Linked DNA regions of Homo sapiens: region 1 is linked to region 2. Evidence: fine-mapped expression QTL. A gene starts in region 2. The other region holds a variant in brackets. All regions are shown on one strand. Distances are from middle to middle. Region 1 overlaps MOB3B (MOB kinase activator 3B). Region 2 holds the start of MOB3B (MOB kinase activator 3B).

What was found. PIP is the estimated chance that this variant, and not a neighbour inherited with it, causes the effect.
Region 1: its variant is the best candidate, but not a certain one, in a credible set for the expression of MOB3B in whole blood (TOPMed, PIP 0.62).

Annotation. Positions count from the first base shown.
Region 1 is chr9:27,480,395-27,485,774 of GRCh38, forward strand. The region is part of intron 1 of MOB3B (MOB kinase activator 3B); the gene reads right to left. Among named protein-coding and RNA genes, the nearest start is that of IFNK, 41 kb to the right of the region's middle. RefSeq lists a silencer at 4,856-4,985. The variant T/G (reference allele first, on the strand shown) is at 3,218.
Region 2 is chr9:27,527,860-27,533,194 of GRCh38, forward strand. It overlaps MOB3B (MOB kinase activator 3B), which reads right to left and starts at 1,955. Exons shown (of 4, transcript NM_024761.5): 1 at 1,696-1,955. LOC124902107 (dapper homolog 3-like) reads left to right here and starts at 597. Exons shown (of 2, transcript XM_047424279.1): 1 at 597-867; 2 at 1,161-2,841. The coding sequence starts at 597. The coding sequence ends at 2,149. RefSeq lists silencers at 683-732, 1,703-2,002.

The sequences.
Region 1 (5,380 bases), 47 kb before region 2:
GTTCACGCCATTCTCCTGCCTCAGCCTCCGGAGTAGCTGGGACTACAGGCACCCGCCACCATGCTCGGCTAATTTTTTGCATTTTTTAGTAGAGACGGGGTTTCACAATGTTAGCCAGGATGGTCTTGATCTCCTGACCTTGTGATCCGACTGCCTCAGCCTCCCAAAGTGCTAGGATTACAGATGTGAGCCACCGTGCCTGGCCCCAGCTAATTTTTGTATTTTTAGTAGAGACAGGGTTTCACCATGTTGGCCAGGATGGTCTTGATCTCTTGATCTGCCTGCCTGGGCCTTCCAAAGTGCTGGGATTACAGGCGTGAGCCACCGTGCCTAGGCAGAATTGTATAACTTCTAAAGTAGTAGAAGAAAGGAAAGGGGGAAAAAGAATACTCAAATGAGACATATACAGACAAAATATGAAAAAAAGAAGGAATTTTAAGGATGTAAGAATATAAGAAAGAATTAAGAGAACAGAAAATGATAAATATATAAGTAAATCAATACAAGCACTGACTCTATAAAAGAATAAAAGAAACGATGCCTTGTGGAGTTTGAAAAATTATATAGACTTAAAATACTCAAAAGACTAGTGTAAGAATTGCGGGGAGGGATAAATAAGAAGGGTGTTATTCAAAGGAAGGTAAAACTATTGATCACTTTAGAATTTAGTAAGTTAAAGACGCATGCTATAATTACTAGGCTAATCTCTGAAAGAATAAAACAGTATGCCTTTCAGAGTGGTGCAGAAGAAAAAACAGAGTGAGACAATGAACTCGCTCATCCATAAAAAGACAAAAAAGGCGAGAAGAAACATAGAAACTGTGCAACAAACAGCACAAAAGACTCCAGCAGATATGGACTAAAATATATCGGTACAGTTAATTATAACAAATGTAAATCAACTAAATGCTCCAGCTAAAAGATGATGGCAAACTGAAATGCTTACTGGGGCAGAGTAGGTCACATAACTGAGTAAACAGCCAGGTGTAGGAAAGCAACAACCCAAATAACCACAACTGATGTCTCCTCAGGGTCAGGGAGACAATAGAGTGTGGTGGCGCCTGGGGTAAACTGGTAAGCGTGTACCTGTCTAAGGAAGGTAGTTTTTTTTTTTTTGTTTTTTTTGTTTTTTTTTTTTTTTGAGACGGAGTCTAGCTCTGTCGCCCAGGCTGGAGTGCAGGAGTACAGTGGCGTGATCTCGGCTCACTGCAAGCTCCGCCTCCCAGGTTTATGCCACTCTCCTGCCTCAGCCTCCCAAGTAGCTGGGACTACAGGCGCCCGCCACCATGCCCAGCTAATTTTTTGTATTTTTAGTAGAGATGGGGTTTCACTGTGTTAGCCAGGATGGTCTCGATCTCCTGACCTCATGATCTGCCCGCCTCGGCCTCCCAAAGTGCAAGGATTACAGGCGTGAGCCACCGCGCCCAGCCTAAGGAAGGTAGTTCTTACAGATCGTTGCCATGTGGGAATACAGTCCAATGTCACATATGTTAACTTTCAAAAACCTGGGAACTCGGAGTTTTATGGGAAATCAGAATTTTAAACATCAGCCATGAATTTTTTTTTAAAAAGCAAACACTGAAAAAAGGAAATAAAATGCTATTGATCCAGTGGAGGGAAGAAAAGAGATAAGATGAAACAAATGAACGAAAAGCACGGTAAATAAAATGCAAAAACAAAAAAACATAAAGCAAAAGGGTGGAATAAAAAAACAACTCTTTCAAACCACTGAAACATGAATGGAAGCGAAGGCTTATGCTAAAACGCCACTGTGATCCCCACCCTGTAATTTCCGCCCTGTTCAACCTTATCATTTGGCTGAAGAGACCTAACATTAAAGGACGGGAAAAACATTAAATAATCCAAACATAAAGCACATGGAGCCCCACTGGCCACTCAAAACTCATAATAATGTCTGGATGGTCTGGATGTTTGTTCCACCAGGTCTGCTTACACCAAGTCTCCTTTGGGGGCTTACTGGATACCTGGGCTTATCTAGCTATTAAGAAAAACGGCAATGTTAAAAGGAATGCTCTGTGCCTAAAAGAATGGAGAGGAGGAAGAAGAGAAAGGAAAAGAAAAATCCACAACATTCACCTTAAGTTACTCTTTGAGCCAGTTCCTGGAATGTCAGTTCTTCCCCATAGACCTTACTATGAGGTAAGGTCTCAAATGTTCAGTGTGGCTTCCAAGGCTTTTCAGACCTGGCTCAGTTGCATCTCAACCTCTGCCTCTACACCATTGCCCGTGCTGGTGGCCTGCCCAGATGTCTTTATCTCCCCATCTGTACTTCCCACCAAACCCTTTCCAAGTGAAGCATTCTCTAAAAGTTGCTTGAGGTTCCTGACAAAATCCCTGTATAAGGAATGCACCACATGGCCGTTTTTAAGTTTGGTTGTACTCTGCAAAAATTTGTGTAATGAGACAAAGAAAATTGTATTCATCAGAAGGCACATGGGGAAAATGGGTTGGCCTGATAAGGCTGCTTCTGGAGAGAAATGAAGCCAGGATAAGGACTGGACTCTTTTCCTAGAGTATCTTGCCTTGAACAGGCCTCCTGCTAACCTGTCTTATCCACTGGAAAACATAGCTACAGCGCTTGCAGTTTAATATCTTTAAGAGGTGCACATACATATTTGAGGGCTTAAAAGAGATAATTGTTTCCAAAATACAAAGAGATAAACATGACAATTACCAAATGTTTAAGTAAATGTCTACAAATATACGGTACTTTTTTTTTTTTTTTTTTTTTTTTTGAGACGGAGTCTTGCTCTGTCGCCCAGGCTGGAGTGTAGTGGCGCCATCTTGGCTCACTGCAAGCTCCGCCTCCCGGGTTCACGCCATTCTCCCGCCTCAGCCTCCCGAGTAGCTGGGACTACAGGCGCCCGCTGCCACACCTGGCTAATTTTTTGTATTTTTAATAGAAACGGGGTTTCACCGTGTTAGCCAGAATGATCTTGATCTCCTGACTTTGTGATCCGCCCGCCTCGGCCTCCCAAAGTGCTGGGATTACAGGCGTGAGCCACCGCGCCCGGCCAATATATGGTACTTCTTTCATTGTTAAATCTAACAAATTTCAATAACATTTTGTTTCAAAATATTTTAAAAATATTTTCTTGTGCATGAAAACAATTAGTAAGTTAAGCTGACTTTCTTTTTAAGAATTCTTGACTGCATAGCTCCTGAGAAAACAGAGCTAATCATAAATTGAATGACA[T/G]ACTTACAGTCAAATGATTTCAAAGGCCCAATTATAAAGGTGCTTTTCATCGCTTGCTGCACAGATTATATTTAATGTGAGGTGTGGGTGCACGTTGTTATGTTTGGTATGCTCGTGGGCAGAAGAGGAACTAAGGCCTCAGAAAATCTTAAAAGACCTGGTCCCATGTACAGCAGGAGGGTGCAAAGAGAGCTGGTATTAATAGGATGTGAAGCGACGTAGGGGGAAATGGCAGAGGGTGTGTCACAGCTGAGTGGTCCATTTGCTGCTGCTCGCCCTTCATGAATGAAATCTTCAAAAAAGCTACAGACTCTGGAAAATGCTGCTTTCCACTGGATTTCTTGTAGGGGATAAGGGTTTGAGTCCAGGTGACAGAGCCACTAAGGAGTGCCAGGGCAGGGTGAGGGCCCATAACGAGCTTATGATGCCAAGCATTGGGGTTCAGGCCAAGTTCTTCCTGCATCTTTGAGGGGCAGGGATGCCCCAAGTGAGAATTGTTACCTGCATTTCATAATATATGCTCTTCTCAAAATGCAGGTCCTATCACAGTTGTCTGGAGCTGAGGGTGAGTTGAACATAGAAGTGATCAGGAGTCTTTCTAAGGGCTCCCATTCAGAGGATCCCATTAACTCAGAGAAAAACGGGAAGAGATAATAAACAGCCATCACAGAAGACACTGATCTAACAAGGTCTCCCAGCATTTCCACAGCAGCCCCCTGTCTGCCATGTAGGGGGTTGAGAAGGTGGGCTGTTTGCTTTCAGTTATAATGGGTCTATGCTAAAAACAAAACAAAAAACTCAGGCGGGAGTAAGAAGCCATGGCAAGTGGACATTTCTCCCTGTGCAAAACTGATGAGTGGGAGGCAGTAAGAAGAGAGCAAACTGAAGTGCATTATTTTTCATTTATTTTTACTTTAAATAAAAAGCATAAAGAATTTGAAAATATTTTGTTAGCCTTCAACCTTCGAGTCACTTTAACCTATCCACATTAAAGGGCCACCATAAAGGCTTCATGAATAGCAGTCCCAGGATAATTCCCTTCTGTTTGCTTGTTCCTGTGCATTTCATGTCTGCCCACCTCCTGAGCCTTGCACCTGCCCTGTGGGTTTGGTGCTTGCACAAATCAACCCCCCGACCCCCGGCCTCCTCTACCCTGCCCTGAGAACTCAGCGTTCCATGCATCCTCAGGCTTTTTCTGCAGGCTGTCAAACCCAGGCATGAGCTCACCAGGGTACCAGCTAGTAAACTACATCCACACAGTCAGGTTGAGGTATCCACTTTAGAAGGGGACTCTGGGACATGGAGTACAGTGACCATTATACCTCAGTTAATGGAAACTTGACTCCCAGCCTTTAACCCTGACAACACATGAACCACCCCGGAAAATTGGCCTTGCCAGTATTTTTAAACAGACCACGGATCCAAGTTCGAGACAAGTGTTTTGCGTGGCCAGATGGACAGTTTCAGCTGGATGTCTCAAGGGCATCCAGTCCATATATTGATAATATATCAATAACAACAAGGATCATAGCAAATACTTCTATATATCACTTATTCTACAATATTAACTCATTTAATCCTCGAAACAACCCATGAGGTAAGTACTGTTATTATTCCTATCTTAACAGATAAAGAAGCTGAGAAAGGTTAAGTAACTTACCCAACAACAACCTGGCAAGGTAGGGACTGTGGAGCTCATTTTACACAGGAAGGAAATGGGTTCACTGAGGTTAGGTGACTTGCTTGCAGAACCAGAACTGAAACCCACCTCTGCTGGCTCTAAAGCCTATTTCCTTTCTAGGACTCAAGGCCTCTCCAACACCACTATTTCTGTTAAGAGCTACATCTGTCTCCCAATCACAAAGCCCCAAATGTCAGCATTGCCTTGGGCAAATCTCACTGATTCTGTCTCTGGAATGTCTCCAATATTAGCCCCTTTCTTTGCACTCCAATGGCTCCTGCTTTACATTTCACTTTCATATCGACTTTTGTGTGGACCATCTCAAACTGATTTTACATCCTACATTCTCTTCCCTCTCTACCCTCATGGAAAATTACTCTTCTTTAAAACACAGCTCTACAAAATGTCAACAGCAGAATTACCATGATATCAATTTTTCCCCCTTGTTCTCTTCTGTGTTTATTGAGTTAAAGGCATTGAGA
Region 2 (5,335 bases):
ATCAATAATCCACACTAAGAATGAACACAATGTGTAAGCATCTGACTTGTGCAGGGAAACAGGGCCGCCTGCAACCCAACAAGCGCACCCACAGGGGAACTCGGGACCATCCTAAGCCACTTGTTCTCTGGGACGTGGAAGCAGGAACTGTGCTCTAGCCGTATCTGTGTTGCGTCGTCTGAGTCCTCTTTTTCTACAATGAAGAAAGGGGACTTGGGATTTAAACTTGGAGCGGTACTCAAAGCCAGAACTCCACGTTCATTCCGGAGTGAACCACCACACTACTATTTCCAGGCAACGTCATAAGGCTTCCTCGTTATTTGCATCTTCGTTCTCTTTTTGGCGACTAGCCTGCCCTCCCGCCCTTGGAAACTTGTGGACCCCAGAATCTCAGCTTTCCGCCTACCAAAGGTGCCCCGATCCCCTCCCACTGCCCTAGCAGCGGCCCAGCCCCAACGCCTTTGGCTAGAGATTGAAATCCTCTGGAACCAACCACTGGACGCTCTGGATTGGGGCGGAACGCGCTTCCACTGTCTCGAAAGCAGCACCTTCTCGGATTTGAGCCTTTGCGGCGCGCCTGGGCTGAGATCTGAGAAATGCGCCCTGGGCCACAGGCAGCAGCGGAGGCGGGGAAGGAACAACTTTCCCTCCGCCCTCTAACCACAAGGGCGGGGTGGGGCGGCCTCGCTGGGGTCGGGCTCCTCCACTTTCCCAGCTGGGATCCCCTGCCGGAGCTGGCGTGGGGGCCGGGGAGGGGGACCAGAGGGGCTTCCTTCTCTCCCCAAGCCCCGCCAGATGTTGGAAAGGCAAACAATAGGGGAAACGCGGAGAAACAAAAGGCCATTCGCCACGATCTCAGTCGGCTGCGTAGAGAGATCTCTGTGGGGAGGGTTAGGGGAGAGGGTCAGGAAAGAGCGCGAGGGGGGGGATCCCGAGAGATTTAGAGTCTCTGGTACTTGCCAGGCACCAGGGGTCGGCGCTTTACCCTCCCAGCAGGGGTCTGAAGGTGGGAAGGGGCAATCAAAGAAAACTTGAAGGGTTTTCACCTTCTTCCCCAGTTCAGGGAAAGGGAGGGGCTGGGATTCCAGATGTTTGACAGTTGTTGGCCCCAAAGTTAAGCGCGATTTGTACGGCCTTTACACGCTCCCCACCTCCGTGAGGCATCGTCAGCCCCGGGGGCGACCTGGCTGACGGTGCGGACTTCCCCTACGCTGCCCCAAGCCGAGACTCCTCCCTCAGGATCAGGACGCCCAAGCGTTGTCCCCCAGCCCAGGCGCACTTTTGTAAAAGTTTGTCTTCCCGCCACCCACAGCCCAACACGCACCCTGCAGGCGTCCGCGGCTGGGGATGGGCTCGGAGTCTTGCACCCCGAAAGAAGGACGATCTTATTGATTTATATCTTTTCAAATCAAGGACAAATCAAGATCCCGGGGTGGAAAGTGGGCGACCCTTGTTCCTGCCGGGAAGTGCACACGAGGAGCCGGCCAGAAACCCAGGCGCCGGCAGGGGTCTGAAGAGGACTCCAGCCCCGGAAGCCCGTGGCCGGCGGGCAGAAGACCGGTCCGCCGCCTCCCGCACCTTCTTGCACCCGCGCCCAGGTGCGCCCCAAACCTCGCCGCCCGCCCGGGCGAGATCGGGAGCGAGCAGCCACCGGGCTGCGCCGCCTCCCCTAGCTTGGAGCGGGTTCTTACTCACCGTGGGGTTTTACCTCCAGCCCAGGGCCCGGTCGGCTCCCTTCGCCGGGTCAGCTGCAGCCAGCGCGAAAGAAAATGGTGAGCTCGGGGCAGGTGGGGCGTCGCTTGCCAATCCACGCAAGGGACTCTGCCGCCGGTGCGCGAGGTCCCGGCGAGCCAACCGGCGGACGGGCGAGCGCCTGGCTCCAGCTGCAGCCGCCGTCGCTCCGGAGCAGCCCCCTCATGCACCCAGCGCGCCGCGCAGCCGGCCGGGGCTCGACTGTCTCGCGGGGACGCCGAGCGGGGACCCCTGGCGGCCGCCTGCGGTATGGCAGCACCGTGGAGAGAAAAGTCGTCTTTGGGATCATCTTCCCTCCGGAAAGAGATGGGACATGACCAGTCTAAGGGGGCTTCCAGCCTTGCAGAAAAGACACTGGGCCAGGGCAGTGAAGAAGGTGTCAGATCAGAAAGGATGATCTCTGGGTCCACAACGGCCACTTCCAAGGCACCTAGAGAGGGGGAAACAGTTTGCCTTCCCCAGGATTTTCTGATTGTTGAAAAATACCATGAACTGCCTGACACAGAGCGGAGCATAAATCATTGGAAAATACTCAGATTCTAGTGGATTTACTAGAACACACTGGGAGTCATGGATGAACCTGGATTTTAAAGCTCAACCCACAGCCCGCCACTCTCTACTTGTGTGGTCTTGGTCTATCTACAACCTTAAAGCCTCAGTATTCTCCTCCGTAAATTGGCGGGGAGCAATATCACCCTTGCAGGGTGATGGTTACGGGTAAACTACATTTGAAACGTTTTTATAGTTTATAGTAACAGAAATCAAATATGAGCTTCCTGCCTTCTGGAGAAAAAGAATTGGATCTTTCACATTTTTCTATTACCCATATGATCACATCTTAATGCATATTGATTGAACTGTACCAAATGACGAAGTACTGCATTTTACCATTCTTACTACACACTTCAAAGAGGTGTGGAAATATATTAAGTAGAAATTAGGATATATAGAGAAAACATCCCTCCTCCAAAAGAGGTTTCTGCAACTAACTACGAAGTGAGAACTTCTAAAATCACTTACATCTTTTGCAATATCATCTCAGATATTGTAAGAAACATTTAATAAATAGTCATGACTTAATGATATCAACCCTGGATTAAATGACTCTAATTCTGTGTCACTTTTGTGTAATGTAAAGATACCGATTGTGAATATAAGACTCAAATATGGGAAAACTGCCAGATACAAAAATACAGCCGCTAAGCAATATTTCTGTTCATCACCGAGGAATCTCATTTCCAAAGTGCCCCAGTTTTTAAGAGGAAGAACACCAGAGTCAGACAGACCCATAGCAGCTGAGTCTAACCTTTCTGAAGCTCTGTTACCTCATCTTATAAAATGAGGATAATATAGGTAGCTGTCATTCAATGAAGGAATGCATACAACATGCTTAGCATAACACCTGTCACATGGTAAGTGCTCCAGGGTCACCACCTATCATTGTTTCCAGCATACAGTTATCACCCCACCGACATGTAGCCCCTCCCTCATGAGCTCAAGAGCCCCCAGCACGTGTTCTACTCACACACGCACAAGCTTCAGTGTCCCTTAAGATGTTATCTCCTGGAAAGTAGGAACAGAAAGAGAATATTTTCAGGTAGTTTGGAACAGAATGAATAACATTCACATTCCTTGCCCAAGTCAGTACAGATTAATTTCCATCATTTCCAACTCATACTTTATACATTTCCCATAAGAGGAAAATCATGCTGGTTTTCAGTAGCATATGAAAAAAAAAAAATTCCAAGAGGATTCTTTTGCCAAGCCACTTCATTACAGCTTCCCCTTAGAGGATACCAAAGAAGCACAGGGATATTGGAAAGGTGTCACCATAGCAACATTGTAATAGACAGATGACAATAGAGTAAAAGCGAAGAAAGCACATTTGCATAGTCATTGACAAACTTGGACCTACAGTCATATTGCTCTGGGCAGCAGTGCTCAGAGTCCAAGGGCTACTCAAAGTAAATTTGGTAAGAGGCTATTTCTATTCATTTTGGCTGAGTCTGACTACCCAGTTCATTGTGCTCATGTGTGTGCTAATTGTAATTGTTACAGGCAGTTCACTAACAAACAGCAGACATCCTCAAGAGTCCCTTTCATCCTAAGCAATGTGAGTTCACAAATCTAAATGTGTACCTAATAAATCTTCAATAGTAAAGCGTACTTCCTCCTTACCTGCTTCTGTTTTGTTTTCAAAACCTTAAATAGTCACAGGTATAGAGAAATTGTCTCAATGCTTATGGGAGCTTCTGTGATAACTTATGTTAATTAACTCTGGGTACTGAAAAGAAACAAACGTGCATGGCTTCCCCTAAGCACTGAGGTAATGGCAATTCAAATAACAGCAAATTTATATATGTGATATACACAGATTTATATATATATAAATATATCACATATAGATATATAAGAAGACATCATATATATATACACACACATTTTAGAGATCATATATATCTTTTAAGCAATTTCAAACCATACAAGAATCCATATATGATCTTAAGGCATAATTTCTGCCAGCATACTTCTCAACATTTATAATGACACTAAATGTCTATAGTCGTTTCCTCTGAAATGCACATTACATCAATCCCTTTTTGTGAAAGTGGAACTAAGGCATAAAAAGGTCAGAGTTCAGGAGCTGGGAAGAACATATGACAGTGTTCAAAGTTGTTTCAGTGACAGCTGAACAAGATAGTGTCATGTGGAATCATAATGGACAATTATCTGCTTTCTGGTCTATAGGAATAGAGTGAGTGTTCTTTCCCAAGTTTAAAAAAAAATTATTGAAAAGAGACTGTACTCTTTCTTCCTGCTCTTAGAATCTGTTTTGTTTATAGTGACCCAATGCTCCTTCATATCTATCAGATGGTATTTTTTTCTTATTTAAAAATACCCATGTGGTTGAGGCTGCAGTGAGCTATGATTGCACCACTGCACTCTAACCTGGGCAATGAGACCCTGTCTCAAAAAAAAAAAAAAAAAATAGTTTGTATCCTTAATAAGCGACCCTTCTTCTCAAGAGATGAGCCTGATGTTTCTGTCTGGCTTAACATTAGCCAGGTGTGGTACACTTGTGATCTGCCTCAGTATTCTGAGTAATGGAGAGGAGTTCTCTCACTGTGAAACAGGTCAACTTAGATACGATCCAAAAAGGGTTAGTTGCCAGGAGAACCAAAGTCTAAGGTAGTCATATCTACAAGCCCATAGCCTGGACCCCCAAATTAATCCTACAGTGAGACTTTAGCACCTTTCACAAGTGGAGAAATCAGACCACTGTGTGCTCAATGGGTTTGGAATGTTGTGCTTTCAAAGTAATTAATACAGAAAGGCATAGAAAGATAGAGAAGAGACTAGTGACTCATGGATGCTTCCAACGTGATATAACGCCCCTTTCTCTTCTAAATAGTAAAATAATGAAGATCTCAAAGAGACTTTCTCTCTTTGAGAAACACAGCTTTACTGCTTTTGTGATCAATGCCCACTGCCCTCACCAACAAATCAGTCATTAATTCCCAACTGCCTTGCATTGCAAATATAGAAAAAAAGGTTTTTGGATCTCCTTAGCTCTCTTTGAATG